Regions from separate parts of the Homo sapiens genome. Here region 2 is linked to region 1. Evidence: fine-mapped expression QTL. A gene starts in region 1. The other region holds a variant in brackets. All regions are shown on one strand. Distances are from middle to middle.

What was found.
Region 2: its variant is fine-mapped to the expression of CRY1 in blood mononuclear cells (TOPMed, PIP 0.98).

What each region holds. Positions count from the first base shown.
Region 1 is chr12:107,091,309-107,096,695 of GRCh38, reverse strand. It overlaps CRY1 (cryptochrome circadian regulator 1), which reads left to right and starts at 3,147. Exons shown (of 13, transcript NM_004075.5): 1 at 3,147-3,892. The coding sequence starts at 3,735. RefSeq lists silencers at 2,676-2,755, 3,086-3,315 and an enhancer at 2,856-3,005.
Region 2 is chr12:107,052,156-107,057,542 of GRCh38, reverse strand. The region is part of intron 1 of CRY1 (cryptochrome circadian regulator 1); the gene reads left to right. Among named protein-coding and RNA genes, the nearest start is that of CRY1, 39 kb to the left of the region's middle. The variant G/A (reference allele first, on the strand shown) is at 2,988.

The sequences.
Region 1 (5,387 bases):
ACAGAACCATTTTTTCCTCCTAGGCCTCTGGGTCTGTGATGGGAGGGGCTGCTGTGAAGACCTCTGACATGCCCTGGAGACGTTTTCCCCATTGTCTTGGAGAATAACATTTGGCTCCAAATTACTTAGGCAAATTTCTGCAGCTGGTCTGAATTTCTCCTCAGAAAATAGGTTTTTCTTTCTTATCACATTGTCAGGCTGCAAATTTTCCAAACTTTTATGCTCTGCTTCCCTTTTAAACATAAGTTCCAATTCCAAGCCATATTATTTGTGAATATATAAAACTGAATACTTTTAACAGCACCCAAGACACCTCTTGAATGCTTTGCTGCTTTGAAATTTCTTCTGCCAGATACCCTAAATCATCTCTCTCAAGTTCAAAGTTTCACAGATCTCTTTGCTAAAACATAGCAAAAGTCACCTTTATTCTAGTTCCCAAAAAGATCATCTCCATCTGGGACCACCTCAGCCTGGACTTCATTGTCCATATCCCTATCAGTAATTTAGTCAAAGCCATTCAACAAGTCTCCAGGAAGTTCCAAACTTCCCCACATTTTCCTGTCTTCCTATGAGCCCTCCAAACCATTCCAACCTCTGCCTGTTACCCAGTTCCAAAGGTGCTTCCATATTTTTGGGTATCCTTATAGCAGCACCTCCCAGTAGCAATTTACTATATTAGTCTGTTCTCATGCTGCTAATAAAGACACACTCAAGACTGGGTAATTTATAAAGGAAAGAAGTTTAATTGACTCACTGTTCAGCATGGCTGGGGAGGCCTCAGAAAACTGATCATCATGCTAGAAGGGGAAGCCAACACAACCTTCTTCACATAGAGGCAGGAAGGAGAAGTGCTAAGCAAAAGGGGGAAAAGCCCCCTATAAAACCATCAGATCTTGTGAGAACTCACTCACTATCATGAGAACAGCATGAAGGTAACTGCCCCCATGATTAAATTACCTCCTACCGGGTCCCTCCTACAACACGTGTGGATTATGGGAACTACAATTGAAGATGAGATTTGTGTGGGGACACAGCCAAACCATATCATTCATATATATAATTTTAAAAGTATTCTTACAGAACCAAAGAAAGGCTGATATATACTTCTTGTGGCAACAGAAGCAGAAGTAGGGAAGACTATTCAGACAGATTGGCTCTCTAGAGTATTGAATTTACTTTATTGCTGCACTAGTTTGCTAGGGCTGCTGTAAAAAAGCACCACAAATTGGGAGGCTTAGAACAATAGGAACTAACTGTCTCGCAGTTCTAGAGGCCAGAAGTTCAAAATCAAGGTGTCAGCAGTGCGACAGTCCTGTGAAGGTGCTAAGAAAGGATCTGTTCCAGGTCTTTCTCCTAGCTTCCAGTAGTTCCTTGGCTTGTGGCAGCACAGTTCCAATCTTTACATGGTATTTTCCCTGTATGTATATGTATTTCTGTGTCTAAATTTCTCCACTATATGAGGCCACCAATCACACTGGATTAGGGTGCACCCTAATGACCTCATCTTAACTTGAGCATGTACAAAGACCTTATTTCCAAATAAGGCCACATTTATAGTCATTGAGAGTTATATGATTTTGGGGACACACAATTCAACCAATAAGAATTGCCATCTCCTTCTTTCTTTTAACTTTGCCAAACACACTGGTGGCCAACAGCACTCACTCACTCACTCATTCATTCATTAAATAAGCATTTGCCTATGTCAGGCTCTGTTCTGGTGTTGATGCAAAAAATAAAAACAAAAGAAAACTGAATACAGACCCAGTCCTTGAGAAATCACACTTCAGAGGGAATCAGAGGCACATTATTATGATAATAAGTACTATTACTGAGTTGGTATTGCTAGGAATGGGCACTTTTCAACTAATTTTCACGGTAGTGTGAAAAGTGATGTAACAGAAACATACTTGGAGAACCCAGGGAGGTCCTAAATTTGCCCTAGGGATCAGGAATACTTTCAGAAATTAGTTATTATTTCATCTGAGTCTAAAGGGATGCGTAGAAATATCCTAGGTAGCTCAAAGGTGGTAATATTGAGTACTGGATTCCAAAGAAGAGTATTTTATAGAGGAAAAAACAGCAAAGGTTAAGAGACAAATTGTAAACCCCAGGAGGGGTGGGGTTTTAGTCTGTTTTATTAAGTATCTCCTGTATCTCTAGTGCTTTGAACAGTGCCTAGTTCATTCAAAAAGTAATCATTGAATGAATTTAAGGGCATCATATATCTAAGGGATGCCATGGCCTGCAGTTCACTGTCGCTGGAAAAGTAGACAAACGTCCAGTTTCAAAGAGACCGGTAAACTACATTAAATGTAAGAGACGAGGGGTGAAAGGTTGATGATATATATCGCTAGTATTAAAAAAATTCCAGGAAGTCCAGGAATGCCTGGCATCCGTCCTGCCAATTACCCTTTTCCCCAGAGTATGTACAAGGGGGAGGAGGCACCCAAGGGCCAGGAGAGTGGAGGGGCACAGCTCCACAATCTCCAAAGTAGGGTTCTCTGGCCAAAGCAGGATTGAAGCACATGGTTTGGACTTGAAATGTACGTGGAGCCTCCCACTCTCCTCCTTCCACTCCATCCTCCCCTCACTCTCCGCCCGACTCCACCACTGGCTCCTGAAGGAAACCGGACAATTTCCAGGCCCTCCCCAAATCCCACGGGAGGAATCGCCGAGCGCGCTCCTGCCCGCCGGCCCCGCCCCCTTACCCTCTGGAACGCAGCGAGAGCGCACGCGCGCCTAACGGAGCAGCGCGCGCGCCCGCAAGCTCCCCGCATCCCCGTGCTCATCCGGGTCTCAGCGAGCCTCGGCCAATGGTGGCCGCTCATGGCCCTTGGGGGCGGGGCTAAGCCTTCCCTCACAAGGGGCCTGTGGTCAACGCGATTTGCTTCCAAGGGACGGCCACCAGTCGGCACAGGAAAGGGGCAGAGGCAGTGAGTTCAGCGTGTGGACGAGGGTCAACAAGTTTGGGATCAAGCGGCTGCCGCTCCTCCAAAAGCGACCGAAGCGCGAGCAGATTACCCCTCCGAGCCAGTGTAGTAAACACACTTCAGAAACGTGAGGTGCCGGTGGTCACGAGGGGAGCGCGCCCTCCAATGAGGAGCCGGGGGCGGGGCCGAGGCCGCTGACGCGGCGGCGGCGGCAGAGTCACCCGGGCAGCCTCGGGACCGGTCACCGGCCGGCAACCGTCCAGCGGCCTCGACCACCGCCTCTAGCCTCCGTTCCCGGTCCTTTCTCCCGGGCCGAGAGACAGCGTCGCCGACAGGGGCTCATTCCCCTCCGGTTCTCCTCGGTGACTCACCTCGGGCGGGCCGTTTTGTCTTTAGGGGCCGCCTTGGTGGGGCGAGGTTTCCGTGACGAATCTCCTGGGGCCGTCCGTGCCGGCTCGGGCCGTCGTGGCGGCTCGAGCTCCTGGAACTTGCTCAGGCTCCGGAGGTCCGAGGCCCTCGAAGTTATGCGTCGCCTCCAGGCGGTTGCGGCGGGCGCGGGCTCCTAAAGGGCGTCACACCCGGACTCCGCCGACTAGGCAACCTCCATTCATCTTTCCACTGCGCCTCCGGCGCCCCCGCCTTCTCCGGTCCCCTCCTCGGAGTCATTTTTTCCTGTTCCCCCTCTGCCGCCCTTTCCTCACGCCCCGGGTGAGGCAATTCTCTTGGAAGCGAAGGTGTCGGCTATGAGCCGGAGCCTCCTTCCTTGAATTTCTCCGTGGAGGACCCGCCGCGCCCCCCGGCATGGGGGTGAACGCCGTGCACTGGTTCCGAAAGGGGCTCCGGCTCCACGACAACCCCGCCCTGAAGGAGTGCATTCAGGGCGCCGACACCATCCGCTGCGTCTACATCCTGGACCCCTGGTTCGCCGGCTCCTCCAATGTGGGCATCAACAGGTGGCGGTGAGTCACAAGCCCGTGGGAAATGGATTTGGGTGTTTAATGAGTCTGATGTTAATGAATTCCATGCGATCCGCCAAATCTGTGAATTTAGACGTGGGACTGTCTTGCTTATACCGCTTACGAATTTTAGGTGCCCTAAGTATTAAATAGAATTGACTTAATACTTCTCTGGCCAAAGAGTACTGACGACCTGAAACACTCGGTCTTCATCAGTGAGTTATGTGTCTTTCTGTGCTAACTGGAGCTCCTCCCCTGAATTTGTGGAGAATTCTTAGTGCTGGAGTTAAAGAAACACCTTTCCTGTCCTTAGTGGCCATTGTATATGGATTCCCTTGGCCTTTTTGTGGCATTCGGAAGGATTGTGATGTTTCCTGTTTACGTTTGTGTCTAGGTAACTCATAGTATGGAGAAAAATCATTCATTCAGTACAGCAGGCTCCAGATCCAGTGTTCTTCCACCTTGAGGTTACTGTGGGAAAAGCAAGGGAAACAGCATTATCTGGTTTCTCTGCTCGGTTCTTTTTCTCAACTCCTCCTTGTGGTTGCCGAGACAAAGCACAGTTTTTCTTTCTAGGCAAGTTGTAGTCCTTCTAGGGATCAGAGCACTGAAAGAAATCTTAGAGATGCTTTATGATCTTTTCCTGAAACACCAGGCTACATGATTGTTAGGCCCCCTGGTGGAAATAAAAGCATAGCTCAACAGATAGACTCTTGATCACTTAGCATGTGCCAGGCACTGATTTAAATGCTAGGGATATAGCAGTGAGTGAAAGACAGAAAGTCATGTCTTCAAGCAGAAAGTAAAATATGTAGTATTTTAGGTGGTGATAAGTATTGTGGAAAAAAATAGAGCAGAGTAAAGGGATAAAGAATACAAGGGTAGGGATGGGGTTGCAATTTTAAGTATGATCGGGGGAAAAGTCACAGAGAAGGTGACACTTGAGCAGACCTGAAGGAGGTGGTGGGATGCAGATATCTAAGGGAAGACCATTCCAGGCAAAGGGAAGAGTAAGGGAAAAGGCAGAAATATGCTTGACCTTTGGAAGGAACAGCAGAAGAATCCAGTATGTCTGGAGCAGAATAAGTGAGGGAAAAATAGTAGACGATGAGGTCAGAGTTGACTTAGGGCCAGATTGAAGAGAGCCTTATAAGCAGTTTTCAAGATTTGGGTTTTTACTTAGTGAAATGGGAATAACTGCAGGATTATGAGCAGAGAAGTAATGTGATCTGACATAAGTTTGGAAAAGAATTTTTCTGCTTGTGGTTCTGAATTGGGGAGTGGAGGTGGACAAGAAGCAGGAAGTCCAATTAAGAAGCTGTTGGCATTCATCCAGGTGAGAGATGATAACGGCTTGAATCATAGTAATAATCGTGGACGTGGTGAGAAATAAACAGATGCTGGTTATATTCTGAAGGCAAAATACAGGGTATTTGTTGGCAGATTGGATATGTAGTGAGAGAGAAAGAAAAGGAGTTAGGCTGGGCGCGGTGGCTCA
Region 2 (5,387 bases), 39 kb after region 1:
TTTTACTCAATTATATGCCAGTCCTCTCATCTTTGAAATGTGGGTTTGTGAGAAAACTTTGGAGAGAAAGAAAGAGGCATTCTTCTATTCCCTCACTCCTGATGTTAGATTCCGCTCGTTTTACTCATTCACGAGTGGGTAGGCAGGGCTTTCTTTTTAAATTCCTGTGCCATATTGCCTCCTGATTTGCCAACCCATTATTTGCTGATTATTATTTATGCCTATTAAGTGACAGGCACTCCATAAATCTTTCTACTTGGCATTTATTGGGCTTTCTTTATACCATTTTCATTGTTTAGTCAGTGTAGATTTTTCAATCTTGTTAACAAAAGTATGACTAAGTATTGTACAATACTTACTGCAGTATATTATGGTGCTTATGTAACTATTTGCTCTTCTGTATTGTAAGTACTTAGGAGGCATCTAATGCAGTGACTTCATTTTCTCTTAATTTTTTCTTTTTTTTATTGTTACATGATAGCTTTACATATTTCTTACATACTAGACAATCATCTGTAATCACTTTACTTCTGCCTAAAATATATCATTTAGAATTTTTTTTAGTGACATCTTTTGGAGACAAACTCTTTTATCTTTTATCAAAATGTCTATATGTTTGTCTTAATTCTTGAAAGATATCTTCATGAATATAGAATTTTAGGTTTCTGGGTTTGTTACCAGTTTATTGAAAATATTCTGTTGTCTTCTGGTTACCTTTATTGCTGTTGGAAACTGTTTCTCCTTTGAATGTAATTTGTCATCTACTCCTATCCTCTAGCTGCTTTGAAGATTTTTCTCATTTTTTGAAAGATTATTTGTGGGAACTTCCTGAGGCCTTTTATAAGGTTGTCTTCCTCTAGAACAATCTTTTGGCTTCCCTGGGCCACATTGGAAGAATTGTCATAGGCTACACATAAAATATACTAACATTAATGATAGCTGATGAGCTTAAAAAAAAAAAAGTCTGTGCTTAAATCTCATAATGTTTTGAGAAAGTTTACAAAATTGTGTTGGGCCACATTCAAAGCTGACCTGGGCCACATGCAGCCCGCAGGCCACAGGTTGGGCAAGCTTGCTCTAGAATTTGAACTTACTTCTTAATGGCATTAGAGTCATTACCACTGCAGGGCACTTTAAATTTATTGTTTGAGATTTCTTGTGCCCCTCTGATGAAAATCCACCTAAGGGCTGGCCAGTGCTTACAGCCTATAAATTCTTTACTTTTTATTTATATTTTCCATCTTTTTCTGCTGAGTGCCAAGGCAACCTCACAAAAGGTGTGGAGGAGGATTTTGTTTCTGGTTCACGTCTTCCCTAACGATGTCTAGCCTTTTGGCATCTTGGCTTAATGTTTTGGAGTATCTTAGACTCTCTGTCTTGAGCTGGTTCTAGGCTTTAATTTCTGTCCTTGTACCGTGAGGCTGTCAAAACCACTATTAAGGTTCTCTGGGATTATTAGCAAATGTTCTTAGGGCAAAAACTAATTATATGTTCGACTTAGCTTTTGGTTTGGGAATTCCTTATTGTCTTGCCAACTCTTTAGGGAGATATTTTATATATCTTAACCAGTATTTTTGTTTGTTTAGACCAATTAGATTGATCTAAATAACCTAAGCTGTTACTTGAAATTGAAACCCATTTAGCTTTATTCTTGTTTGATATAAATATATGTAGTATCTATGGTTATTTTGCCCTTTTCTTTCATTCTTTTTTTTTTTGAGACAGGGTCTTGCTCTGTCTCCTACACTCAAGCCATTCTCCTGCCTCAGTCTCCCAAAGTGCTGGGATTACAGGTGTGAGCAATTACACCCAAACCTTTTCATTTTTGATATTGCTTATTTGTGTCTCCTACCTTTTGTCCTGATACATTTCATCAGAGGTTGGTTAGTTTTATTGTCTTTTCAGACAACCAACTTTATTTGCCTTCACTATGGTAGGTTTGTTTTTTATTTCAGAATGTGTTAATTTTATTTCTTTGTTCTGCTTTTTTTTACGCTAACTTATTGAAATGGAGTTAGCCTATTGAATACCCTATTTAGCCTATTCAATTTAATAGGCTGAATTCTTAGGCTATTTTTAGCCTTTCCTTTTTATCTGATACAATTATTTAGGTGTGTAAATATCCCTCTAATTGCTACTGTAGTTTTATTCCACATTCTCTTTAATGTGGTATTTTCATTATTCAGTTCAAAATATTTTCTAAATTTTGTTATGATTTTTTTCTTTGGTCTGTGAATTATTTAGAATTATATCCTTTGTTACTTATAATATTTATTATATTCCAAACATGCAAAGTTTTCTAATTGTCTTTTCAGTATTAATTTTTAGCATAAATACGTCAAGGTCAGAGACTATGCTGTAAATAATTTCAGTTCTTTGAAATTTATATAGACTTTTTTTTAAATGGTCCAATATATGCTGAATTTTTAAAAATGTTCCATGTGTATACTGCTGTCTTCATTGTTATTAGACGGGATATTCTTTGTTTTTCCATTAGGTCAAGGTTGTTAATAAGTTGTCCAAATCTTCTGTACTCATTTTTGGTCTGCTTATCTCAATTATTATCAGAAGAATGTTAAAATCCCCACAGTTTAATCATAGATCTGTCTTTATTTGAAGCTCTGTCATTTTTACTTTATACAATTTGAAATGCTAAAATTAAATATATGTTCTCCTGGTGAAGTGAAGGCTTTTGTTCTTATCATTACGAGGTGTGGAGAAATGTGTAAAATATGTATATATTTAGATGATTATTAACCTGGTTAAAGTCATTATGAACGTGACTTTATAGTATATTTCTTTACAGTTCATTATGTTTATAATTAATATAGCTATGGCAGCTTTCTTTGGTATGTTTATAGTCAACTTTTTTGTATCCCTTTTTTTTTTTTTCAAACTTTCTGGAGTCTTTTAGATGTCTCTTGTAAATAGCATATATTAACTTTTGTTTATTTAGTCTGATAGTTTTTAATTAATTGAAGCCTTTC[G/A]TTAGTCTGTTTACATTTGTTATAATTACCAAAGTATTTGGATTTATTGTCATATTATTTTGTGTTTTCTTTTTGTCCTTCCTGTTCTATTTTTTAATATTCTTTTAAATTCTGTTGTTTTAAATTTCATTAATTTCTTTCTAATAACTAGATTTATTAATTTATCAGACTTAATAAATTTATTAATTAATAAAATAATTACACATTATTTTAGCTATTCTTTTAGTGTTTACTCTAGAAATTACCAGAAGCACATTGGTTAATGTCTAAAGTTAATCAATAATTTTGTCTATTTATTAGATAATTCAAGGCCCTTGAAACGCAAACTCTAATTACCTTTCTTCTGATTTATATATTCTAATTCTGGTCATTTCTCTGTTTTTGTTTTTAAAAACCAAAATATATTATTCTTGTTTTATAAGGCCAGTATTCATTTACCCACATATCTACTATTTACAATGTTCTTTATTCTTCCTAGCATCTCAGCTCTTCCATTGGGGAACATTTTTCTTTTATCTCAGATGTATCTTTTAGAATTCTCTATAGAAAAAGACTGGTGATGGTAAACTCTCTTAGGTTTGTTTGAAGATACTGGCCTTGTTTACACTGGATATAGAATTCTAGGTTGACAGTGATTTTCTCTGAGCCTGTTGGGGATGTAGTTATAGTCAGCTGCCACTCCCACTCATACTTTTTTTGGGGGTAATATCTTGTTTCTTTTTGTCTAATTTTAAATATTCTCTTTCTCTGACATGTTCTGAAGTTTTTCGATGATGAATCTCCGTCTGAGTTTCTTTGTATTTACTTCTCTTGGATTTACAGTGCTCCTTGAAACCTGTCTGTTGCTATCTTTCATCAGCTTTGAAAGTTTTTCAGCTGTTACTTTTTCAGATCTTGCTTTGCCTTGCTTTATTTTCTCTTTTTGGAAATACATTTGTAGCCGGCCACCGTGGCTTATGCCTGTAATCCCAGCACTTTGGGAGGCCGAGGCAGGCAAATCACCTGAGGTTGGAAGTTCGAGATCAGCCTGACCAACATGGAGAAACCCCCTCTCTACTAAAAATACAAAAAATTTGTCGGGTGTGGTGGCACATGCCTGTAATCCCAGCTACTCAGGAGGCTGAGGCAGGAGAATTGCTTGAACCCGGGAGGCAGAGGTTATGGTGAGCTGAGATTGCGCCATTGCACTCCAGCCTGGGCAGCAAGAGTGAAACTCCGTCTCAAAAAAAAAATACATTTGTACGTGTGTTAGACATTTTTACTGCACTCTTTTATTTTCTTCATATTTTCCATCTCTTTGGTTCTCTGTACTTCATTTTTAAAAATGTCTTTTTATCAGCTATTCTATAAATGTTATTTTTAACTGTATCTGTTAAGTTTGGATTTCAATTATTATATTTTTCATATATGGAGATTTTCTTTGGTTCTTTTTCAAATCTGCCATTTCTTATTCCTTGCTTTTTTTACTTTAAACATGTTGATTAAATTATATGGGCTCTGCCTTCAAAATGTATCCAAGTTCGGACCATCTCATGCTTCCACATTAACTACCGAATAATTTCCCTTCAGATTCTCTGGTTCTCTCCTTCTTCCTCTTCAGCTCATTGTGATCCTTCATAATCACAAGTAGGATCAATCTCTAGTGGCTTATATCTCAGAGTAAAAGGCAGAGCCCTTACCATAGTCTACAAGATGTCATGTGAACTGGAACTTGATAACTTTCTAACCTAATAATCTCTTGCCACTCTTTCACTCTCTGTGCTGTGGCCATACTGGTTTTTTGAGTATTCTTTTTAAAGTGCCATGCATGTTCTTCACCTGTGTTGTACATCTGCTGTTCCCTCTGCACAAAATGTTTCCTTACCAGCACTGCTTGCTCTCCAACTTTCCTTCAGGTTTCTGCACAGATGTTCTATTATCAGTGAGTATTTTCTTGACTTGTTTCATATAAAATACCAGTCTCCATTCCTTTATTCCCTGAAGTCCCAGTTTCCCCTTTAACTTTATGTTATTCAGTTATTACCATTTGAACAGTTTGCTTTACTGTTTTTGTATTATTCTGTCTTTACTCCCTCTCCTTCTAGAATATTAGCTTCAAATTGTAGGAAGTTTGACTTTAAAAAACCACAGGTGTGTTTCTAATATCTAGTACAGTCTTTAGTACATAAGTTCTCAATAAATATTTGTTGAATAAATAAATGATTATAAAGTGTTATTCAAGGGACTGCCCTTGTGGTAAAGAGGTACTGTCATTTTAGGAGAGTCTCAAATCTAATTACGTTAGATTTTTTAGAATTCTCTATAGTAAAAGGCTGCTAATGGTAAACTCTCCCAAGTTTGTCTGAAGATACCATCCTTATTTACACTGGGTATAGAATTCTAGGTTCTTTTATGACCTTC